Linked DNA regions of Homo sapiens: region 1 is linked to region 2. Evidence: fine-mapped expression QTL. A gene starts in region 2. The other region holds a variant in brackets. All regions are shown on one strand. Distances are from middle to middle. Region 1 overlaps CPSF7 (cleavage and polyadenylation specific factor 7). Region 2 holds the start of CYB561A3 (cytochrome b561 family member A3).

Region 1 (5,373 bases), 55 kb after region 2:
GCCTGGCTTATTTTTGTATTATTAGTAGAGATGGGGTTTTGCCATGCTGGTCTCAAACTCCTGACCTCAAGTGATTTACCGGCCTTGGCCTCCCAAAGTGCTGGGACTACAGGCATGAGCCACTGCACCTGGCCTAAAAAAGACTAATTTAGATGTCAATGTAGATTTTTCTGGTGGGAAAAAAATGAAGGGAACATATGTACTTTCTGTCTTTAACCTTCTCTGTGGATTCAAGTTTGGCAAGATGATGCAAAGATGAAAACTGATGGAAAGCAGATGATAATATTTAGGGCTAACTTATTTCTTAGGAGATCTGATAATCTACAGACATTTACATTCATGTAGGAAACTCACAGGAAGGAAGTGAATATGGCTAATGTCACGATGTGAAAACCGGACCAGAACTCTGAAACTTCCTGTAGCCTCTTCTTTTAGAAACTAAAGATCTTATGCTCAGGGCTTTCAGAATCATGGCTGCTGGTTCTACCCACTTAATAATGAGAGCAGGGCAAAAGTTAGCTGTAAGGGCATAACATGCCTTAAGATGACATCTACAGACTTGCCTCTTTTTAGGATAGGCTACCTACCAGCTCTGCTTAGACTCCTAAATGTAATCAGATTTCATAGCAAACCATTATCTAGGCTGGACGTGGTGGCTCACACCTGTAATCCTAGCACTTTGGGAGGCCGAGACAGGCGGATCACTTGTGGTCAGGAGTTCAAGACCATCCTGGCCAATATGATGAAACCCTGTCTCTACAAAAAAATACAAAAATTAGCCGGGCGTGGTGGCAAGTGCCTGTAATCCCAGCTACTTGGGAGGCTGAGGCAGGAGAATCGCTTGAAACCAGGAGGTGGAGGCTGTAGTGAGCCAAGATTGCACCACTGCACTCCAGCCTGGGCGACAGGGCAAGACTCCCTCTCAAAACAAACAAACAAAAAAACACATTATCCAGTCAAAACATCATTCCTAAAGAAGACCCAGGGTCTATATCTGGTATTGGGTCTACTACACAGACACTAGATCTAAAGATCAACCACTGAGATGGAGATTTCCACAAGGCAGGAATTTCACTCTACAGCAAACACCACATCGAGATGGTATTAATTATTTATATTCTAGGCATTAAGTTGGTTTTCATGAGGGCAGGCCTAGATACAGACTAAGTAATACTGCCGGAGCTTCCCCAAGGCCAAGAAATCAGGTTACATATTGCTCTTCAAAGTATGCCGCTCTTGATATCTACAGTACTCCAACTTTATCTTGTTGAACTTTTGCCAGTAGAAATGACAAAATCAGGAAAAAAAAGTAAAGGTTAAGGAGAAGGCAGCAAAGGTAAGCACTGAGTTACCTGCACTGGCTCCAGATACTGCTTTGGAAATGGCACTGCTGGAAATTGCTCTGTTTCGCTTCATGATATCTTCAAATTCGGCTTCACTCACTGTAGAGGGTGGAGGGCCCGAATCTCGGCTGTACAGAGAAAATACCATCCTTGATTGCTCACATCCCTTATTATTTTTACTGTACTCTACAACACTTTGGTAATTTTGGCATAACACAGAACAATGCTAGACATCTGTAGCATTCATAACACCTGCTCCCGCATTTAATTAAGCACCTTAAAAAGGGGTATAAAGGACATGGTACTACTTCCCAGGAGTCAATGCTATGATAACAGAATGTCTATAAGGGAAAGAACAAGGATTCAGTGCTCACTTTCTCAGGGAGAATAAAATGCTTAATACACTTATTTACCCTGGCTCAAATCTGAAAGGAACAATAGTCCTTACCTGCCATGGTGGTTATAGGGGGCAGAGGCCTTCATGTAAGTATCTGGTGGAGGCCCCACTGTAGCGTTTGGTGGGGGGAAGAAGGCTGGATTGAGGTGAAGGGCAGGTGGGATGGCCCCAGGGGGAGGTACAGCAAGATGAGGAGGTAATCGAGGAGGTGGGGGCATGAGATGCTGGTAGTGGATACCAGGAGGAGGAGGAGGGACCCCAAAGCTTGAGGAGAGAGGTGGTGGGGGTGGAATTGGTGGTGGGGGCAGACCCATCAGGGGAAGGGCCGAAGGAGGACGATTGAAGTAGGGCAGCACACTGGGGGGCTTATCCACACGAGCAGATGAGGGTACAAGGTTCTCAGAGGGTGTGGCCCGTCCATCAGCAGAATCACTAGAATCTCGGGAATGGGCCCGTGGAGGTATTCCTATGAAGCAAAACAGAACTGATGTTACTGCCCAGGCTTTACACAAACCCACAGGACCAGTTCATCCTTCAGAAGTTATCAGACACCCTACAAAGGAAGGTGACTAAAGAGGCTGAGAAGGTAAAATCATCTACTGCCTTTTTTTTGGCTTCAGAGGTCAGAAGCAACTCAGTGAAGACATTAAATCCAAAAAACAATATCGTCCTAAATCCTGTCAAAGAATGTTTTCCATCCA[T/G]AACTCCAGAAGTGCTTCAGAACAGATTTAATTTATCCTTATATGTATCTTCTATTTTTAAATGTAGAAGGATCCTGATAGCCCACGAGAAAATGACAGTGTTCACTGATGTTCAGGTGAATTGCAGTTGACTTGAAACCCCACATCTCCTGAAGAGTTCAGGACCTCTCTCCTTAAACTAATACTAGTTAACCTCTTCCTGTTGCACACTTAAAATGTTCTCTTTGCCACAGGGTGTTGGCTAGGGAATTTAAGGGAAGAGAGGGAGTGGCAGGAACTGGATGGCACTTCTATTTACATACTAAAACTAGTAATCAGGGTGAGAAAGAGACACACATGAAGACTAGACAACTGGAGGTTAAGTGAAAGATAAGAAAAATTGGGAGATACGCCAATAAAAGATCCGCCCACAGCACAAGCAGATAGCACACAGCTGACAGTAAGGATGCTTAGCAAAAGCTTGCTACAAAACATGTCTCCAATCTGGGGAACTCCCGCTACATTTCAATGGCCAAAATCCTCTACCCTTCAGGGCAGCCTAACAGGAACACCATCACCACATGCTAGTATGGTGCTGTGCACAACAGGAGCTCAGAACATGTTTTAAACAGCTGGAAGCATGGATTCTGACATTGTCAAGTCACTTGGTTAAACTTGTTCCTTCTCTCCAGTTTAACAGTCTAAGCCTGTTTATTGTGGAATCCAATAGAAGAACAAGATCACATGGCTTTGGGGGGGTCTTGGAGATAGAAAGATGCCACTGGCAGCAAGTGTGGAGGAAAGAGTGCTCCTTAAACTAGAATATGATAGTTAATCCCAGCTCCTGAGTAAAGCCTAAGGTGGAATCAATTATGTTGACAACCACCTAGATTTCTCTTACAGAACAGTGCCAGTGCTGTCTTGTTCTTCAGGTCTCAAACACATGGCAACTGGCTCTTTCCTAGAGTTCTCTCAAACTGAAGAACAAAAAGGTATAAGGCAAGTGTCATCTGACAGTTAACCACTTTCCCAGCTACTACTGTTGTCACATCTGCAAAGGTTGTTTTGTATCTATGGCTACAAGTCCCAAAAGACGCAACATTTCTATGCAGAGGAAGTCCACCAGCTTTACTTAGTGAATTAACAGAGCCCAGGTCCATCAGCATGACAGAGCAGAAAAACAGCACTCAGTTACACAATCTTTTCAGCAAAAAAAAGTAACATGAAAAGTAGCTGAGTAGAAGTAGAACGTTACCCCCAATACAGTTGTAAAATTACATACCTAAGGAAAGTCAGGGGTGAATTACAGAAAGACTCCAAAACAGAGGGGACTTGAAAATACAACTTGTCAAGGAAGAAGAGTGTGTCCTTTCTAACATGGAACAACAAGAGTTCACACCAAATCTATCTAGGCTGTCAATCTAGTTAAAAGAACAGCTGTTCCTATGCAAGAGCAAAGTGGTCCTATTTCTACCTGGAGGATACACCCAATCAATACAAGGCACTATTTTGAGAGCTGGACCTAAGCAGTGACAGAACATCAGTGATGAAACTTTGCTGTTCCTCCCACTGTAGCAAAAGAAAATAAGGGTGGTTGGCTGTCTCAGGGAAGGTCTTGCAGGGTGGCTGCACTTTATGAGGTCAGGAAAATCCAAGGTCTAGTCCTCAGGTTTCTCAGGTTCAGAAACTTGCTTCAACTGGGGTGACTAGGCCCTAGGAGACTGATTCATGCTAACCAAACTCACAAGAGACTGATTCATAAACCATAACACCAATTTATTAATTTACAATGAGAAATGTAATTGCCAAGCAGACCAGAATACTTGTGTCGGCTGGTCAGCGAATTCTCTTCCTAGTAGGAGACCCTAATTGGGAAACCAAATTAGCATCAGAAAGTGGCTTAGTGAGTACAGTCAGAATAAAGAGAGTAAGATGGACATTGGGGAAACTGTCCTCAAACTAAGGTAGTTCTGAGGTAACTTTCTTTTTTCTTTTTTTTTTTTGAGACAGAGTCTCACTCTGTCACCCAGGCTGGAAGGCAGTGGTGCAATCTCAGGTCACTGCAACCTCCACCTCCTGGATTCAAGAGATTCACCTGCCTCAGACTCCCGAGTAGCTGAGATTATAAGCATGTGCCACCATAACTGGTTAAGTTTTGTATTTTTAGTAAAGACAGGGTTTTGCCATGTTGCCCAGGCTGGTCTCGAACTCCTGACCTCAGGTATCTGCCCGCCTCAGCCTTCCAAAGCACTGGGATTACAGGTGTGAGCCACCATGCCCAGCCCCTAACTTTTTTATTTTCCCTCCAAGATGGAGTCTTGCTCTGTTGCCCAGGCTGGAGTGCAGTGGTCTGATCTCAGCTCACAGCAACCTCCGTCTCCCGGGGTCAAGCAATTCTCCTGCCTCAGTCTCCCGTGTAGCTGGGATTACAGGCATGTGTCACCCACACCCGGCTAATTTTTGTATTCTTAGTAGAGATGGGGTTTCACCATGTTGGCCAGGCTGGTCTCAAACTCTTGACCTCGTGATCCACCCACCTCGGCCTCTCAAAGTGCTGGGATTATAGGCGTGAGCCACCGCGCCCGGCCTGTAACTTTCTTTACTAATGGGATATAACTGCCAAGCAGACTAAAACATTTGGTAATCAAAAGAGCACCCTCTCCCCTGGACAATGCTGGAGAAATATTGTTCAAGTCTTATTCTCCAACACTCCTCTTGGTTGATTCCTTACAGTATCCTTCCAATCAACGTTTATGAAAAGATTATAGGCACCTTTTAGTTACATTTTAGGGTGGCTGCTTCTTGATAATTTATAGAGAGGCATGTCTTAAAAATTAAGCCCATTCACCTAATGCCAAGTTTTAGACAGAAACACAGAATTTAGAGGTGATGGAACTTTAAACATCATGTCACTAGTCCAGATGGGGAAACAGGCCCTAAGTAGTAAAGTGAC
Region 2 (5,309 bases):
ACTACTTAACTCAGAGATTTGCTACCCAGCCTCAGAACTGCCTCCTCAATTCCTCCAAGGGCAGAGGACGTTTCAGATCACCAGATATTCACCTAAAACACTCTCCATCCCTCAGTGAAATGTAAGAGATCTTGATCAGCAGGCTCACTCATCTGACAATATCTACTTCCACAACTGTTTTTTTTTTCTTTGTAAGAGGAAAAAGTAAATGCAGTCCGAAAGGATCTGTAGCCACACCCTAGAAAAGGTCCTGGTTTACTGCTCTGTGACAGACTTAGAATAGACCCTGGGCACACTTTCCTGACAGAGAGCTGCAAAGTTATATTGCCCTGCTCACAATACACAGATAAGCCCTCCTACTTCCTGAAATAGAGCAAAGCAGGAGAAAAGGAAGAATGCAGTGAAGGACCAGCACAGTGATTCATGCCTGTAATCCCAGCACTTTGGGAGGCCCAGGCAGGTGGGTTACCTGAAGTCAGGGGTTCGAGACCAGCCTGGCCAACATGGCAAAATCCCGTCTCTACTAAAAATACAAAAATTAGCCAGGCACGGTGGCATGCGCTTGTAGTCCAAGGTACTCGGGAAGCTGAGGCACGAGAATTGCTTGAACCCAGGAGGCAGAGGTTGCAGTGAGCCAAGATCACGCCACTGCACTGCAGCCTGTGCAACAGAGATAGACTCTGTCTATAAATAAATACCCAGGAGTTCCAGACCAGCCTGAGCAACAGTGAGCCCTCATCTCTTAAAAAAAAAAAAAAATTAGCTGGGCGTGATGGCATCCACCTGTAGTCTCAGCTACTCAGGAGGCTGAGGTGGGAGGATGGCTTGAGCCCAGGAGAAGGCTGAAGTGAGCCGAGATCGCACCACTGCACTCTAGCCTGGGCGACAGAGCTAGACTCTGTCTCAAAAACAAAACAAAACAAAAAAACCGTGAAAACTGCAATGCAAATGCTTGAAAATATCCTCTCATTTGTTCTAAGGGCAGGCTGGGCTGTGATCCCAGGGTGTGCTCACTTTGCAGAGCCCCATTCTAAGGGAGCAGTCAGCAAGCTCTTCTGTAAAGGTCCAGGTAGTAAATATTCTAGGCTTTGTAGAGCACATGGTCTGTCACAACTATGTCATCAACTCTGCCCATGCAAGAGCAGCCACATAAACATCTTAACAAATGAGCACCACGGCTGTGTTCCAGTAATATTTATTTATGGACACTGAAGTCTGAGTTTCACATAATTTTCACGTCACAAGATATTATTAACTTCTTGCGAAAAAGGATTCTCCCGGCTGAGCTAAAACAGGTCACATCCAGGGGTAAGAAATGCTAGTTCCCATCCAGCCCTTAGTCTTAGAAAAAGGCTCTACGCAGGCTGGGCGCGGTAGCTCACGCCTGTAATCCCAGCACTTTGGGAAGCCGAGGCGGGCGGATCACATGAGGTCAGGAGTTCGAGACCAGCCTGACCAACATGGAGAAACCCCGTCTCTACTAAAAATACAAAAATTAGCCGGGCGCGGTAGCGGGCGCCTGTAATCCCAGCTACTTGGGAGGCTGAGGCAGGGGAATCGCTTGAACCCGGGAGGCGGAGGTTGCAGTGAGCCGAGATCGTGCCACTGCATTCCAGCCTGGGCGACAGAGTGAGACTCTGTCTCAGAAAAAAAAAAAAGAAAGAAAAAGAAAAAGGCTCTACTCCAAACTCTTGCAGTGTTACTTTTATAATTTAGAACTACAAATAAATGAAGGGGTAGAAAATCAGTTTGTTGCTCTCCCTCCCCGATGGACTGGGGGACTTCAAGAATCTTGAGGACCAGATTTAGGATACAAGCCCTAAACCCTCATCTTACAAATCAAAAACACTGTGACACTGGGGCCCAAAACAAGAAAATGACTTAGCCAAGGTAAGTGGCCGAGCTGGTACAGGAATTCGGGTCCACTCCCTCTCAGCTCTGAGGATTCCTTATTCTCAAAGGTAGCTTCTGTTAAAGTCGGAACATGAGGAGTGAAGGGCTCAATATTCCTGCCAAGGAGGTAGGTGAACAAGTTACCCCTTAGCACCGGAATAATTATAGACCCCGACTTCAGGCTGTGCCTAGGTCCGGCTCAGGTGTCCAAAGAACCGTTCCAGGCACCCGAGGGGTGATCCCTGACTCCTCTGCTGGGTGCTCGTGCCAGCTAACAATGGGTGAAAATTGGGGTGAGGAGCTCCAGGTGCTTTCTGCGTCCTCTGAAGAGCTTTCGTGCCTTTATAACCACCGCGTTGGAAGGAAGAGCGCGGAGAAAGGTGCCCACTTTCTAAAAGAGAAAATTGAGGCCGAGCAAGGGGATCGCGACAGTGCGAAGCGAGATAGCAGCGGAACCAGCATTCGAACCCAGGTCCCTGAACTCCCAGCCCCGGGATCCTTCTCACCCCTAACCACAGTGGGACGAAGTGAGGCCGGGATCTCCGGAACCCGCCTCTCGCTACCAGGCGCCGGAGCTGCCGCTCCCGAGGTTCCTAGGAGATGCAGAAGACACTGCCCTGAATGCCTACAGCCGGCTGGCAATGCCGCCCCAGAGCAGAGCGGCGGGTGCCGCCTCGCCTTCTTATAGGCTCGCAGCACTTCCAGTCGCGCGCGAGGCCTCCTGGGAAGTGAAGTCCGGAGACCAGGGGTGGCCGGCTCCCAGCGCGCCAAGCTGCTAACCCCCTAACTCCCGTTCCTCCTCGGCGTTTCTTCTCCAAGTCCGAAGTCAGGGTCCAGGACTGCTGCGATGCATCAGCCCCGCCTCTCATCCCCCATCCAGAGGAGGCGGAAATGTTCAGGTGAACGCGAAGCCTCCCACTACGAGCCGGCCCTCAGCAAGGCCGTGCGCAGTGTGGGCGGGAGCCCTAAGTCAGCTAGCGGCGACGCTGGGAGGGCCCGGAGCAGGCCGGGCCCCGAACAGCGAAAGCTCCAACATGGCGGCCAGACTGGCCATAGAGCGGGAAGAGAAAGCCGGGGACTAGCAGGCCGCACGGCGCAGACGGGGCCCGCCTCCTCCATTTACTTCCGGAATTTAAAGCCGGCTTCCGGAAGCCGGGACGATGTCCGCATGACAACCGACGTTGGAGTTTGGAGGTGAGAGTGATTGACGAGGAGTGGGTTAAGTGACCAGAAGTCAGAATTTTTGGTGCTGTTGTTTTGGGCTTGGGTTTTATGCTTTGTTGTTGTTTGCCAAGGAAGCCTCGTTTTTAAGTGGATTGGGAAGCGTGAGGAATACTGCCCTAGGTACAAAGGGAAGGCGGCAGGTAGCGGTGGACGAATTAAAGAGCTTCATGAGCTTGTGAGTCTCCACTGCCCTAAACTGGAGGGGATCGTCGTACGTAGAGACAGGCATGGGCGTTTCTGCATAACGGATCCTCAAAACAGCCCTGGATGGTGGCCTATGAGTAGTGGTTAAGAGCACGGGTTTGGCGTCACAGTTATGAAGCCGGGTTCTGCTGACTTGAGACCTGGAGGAATGCCTTGAGCTCTGACTTCTGTGTCCTTTCCTGTAGAATAGGAATAATTCCCACCTTGCAGACTTGTAGGGAGGATTAAAGGAAACGATCTTGGTTGACAAGTTTATCGTGGTGTGAGTACCTAGGTAGTAGCTATCAGTGTTATTTAATGCGGCCGGGCGCAGTGGCTCACGCCTGTAATCCCAGCACTTTGGGAGGCCGAGGCGGGAGGATCACGAGGTCAGGAGATCGAGACCATCCTGGCTAACATGGTGAAACCCCGTCTCTACTAAAAATACAAAAAATTAGCCAGGCGTGGTGGCACGCACCTGTAGTCCCAGCTACTTGGGAGGCTGAGGCAGGAGAATCGCTTGAACCCGAGAGGCGGAGGTTGCAGTGAGCCAAGATCATGCCACTGCACTCCAGCCTGGCGACAGAGCGAGACACTCTCTCTCTCTCTAAAATTTAATGAATGAGGAAACCGCGAACATATGTCCAATAAGGTGGGACTTCACCAGCTGAGGTGGAGGAGGTGCCTTAACCTTCCGGAGCCTCTGTGTAAAATGGGGATAATATACATTGTAATGGCTACTTCTCAAGATGGTTGTAGGATTACGTAAGGTTAGAAATATGAAAAGAGCTTATAAATTGCAAAACATTTTACCGATGCTAATTTAATCGCTAACACTCCAGAGCATTTTGAAATTTCTTTATAGATTTGGCACAGCAGCGGGTCATAGGACACCCCCAGAGCAACTTGTGGGTCTTGGAATAGATGAAAAGAAACAACTGCCACTGTGTTGCAACCATAACCCTAAAGATAAAGCTTTCCAGGAGACCCCTGTTTCCTCTCTGCTTTTTCTGCCTAGGGCACTTCACACTTCTTTGCTGGCATTTTTCCTGCCTAGTTAAATACTAGTCTATCAATTATGTAAGAGACAGCTTAGTCCAGTAGTTAAGAGCACAGACTGTGGACCCGTGCAGCCTGCATCTGAATACTAGCTCTGCCACTTACTAACGACGTGACCTTGGACAAATTATTTTACCTCTCTTGGCCTCAAATTTCTCATCTGTAAAATGGGGAAGGTAATAATGTATTATGTCATCTACCTTGTGAGGTTTAAATAATGTTAGTGCTTGTAGAACACTCCCTGGCACATTGTAAGCAATGTATAAGGATTTGCTGCCATTTTTGTTACCACCGCTACTACATGACCAGGCAGTCATTCTTCTCAGTAATACTACTAGATTCCTTTGGTTAGAGACAGCTCTGCATTGAGAAGATTCCAGGCATGGAGAAAAGCTGGTGAAGGTCCTAGAATAAATGACTTCTTGGGGGTTTTTGTTGTTGGTTTTGTTCACTAAAGTATCCCATGCAACTGGAGTGGTACCTGGCACACAGTAGGTCCTCAGTAAATGTTTATGGTATTAATACATTTCTAACCTTGCTTATCTTTTTGCTCCAACAGGTGCTTGCCTTAGAGCAAGGGAAACAGCTCTCATTCAAAGGAACTAGAAGCCTCTCCCTCAGTGGTAGGGAGACAGCCAGGAGCGGTTTTCTGGGAACTGTGGGATGTGCCCTTGGGGGCCCGAGAAAACAGAAGGAAGATGCTCCAGACCAGTAACTACAGCCTGGTGCTCTCTCTGCAGTTCCTGCTGCTGTCCTATGACCTCTTTGTCAATTCCTTCTCAGAACTGCTCCAAAAGACTCCTGTCATCCAGCTTGTGCTCTTCATGTGCGTGCAGTAAGGCACTCTGGAAAGCTGAACCCACGCAATTCAAAGGCCCTGACAGTGGTGATTTAGTGTCTTAAAGTTATTAGTAGGCTGGGTACGGTGGCTCACACCCATAATCCCAGGA

Evidence for each region. PIP is the estimated chance that this variant, and not a neighbour inherited with it, causes the effect. A credible set is the group of variants that fine-mapping cannot tell apart.
Region 1: its variant is the best candidate, but not a certain one, in a credible set for the expression of CYB561A3 in whole blood (INTERVAL, PIP 0.83).

Annotation. Positions count from the first base shown.
Region 1 is chr11:61,414,314-61,419,686 of GRCh38, forward strand. CPSF7 (cleavage and polyadenylation specific factor 7) reads right to left here. Exons shown (of 10, transcript NM_001142565.3): 6 at 1,792-2,206; 7 at 1,353-1,471. Among named protein-coding and RNA genes, the nearest start is that of CPSF7, 13 kb to the right of the region's middle. The variant T/G (reference allele first, on the strand shown) is at 2,442.
Region 2 is chr11:61,359,334-61,364,642 of GRCh38, forward strand. CYB561A3 (cytochrome b561 family member A3) reads right to left here and starts at 2,549. Exons shown (of 7, transcript NM_153611.6): 1 at 2,400-2,549. It overlaps TMEM138 (transmembrane protein 138), which reads left to right and starts at 3,041. Exons shown (of 5, transcript NM_016464.5): 1 at 3,041-3,087; 2 at 4,919-5,185. The coding sequence starts at 5,058. RefSeq lists enhancers at 2,100-2,319, 2,438-3,159, 2,570-3,059.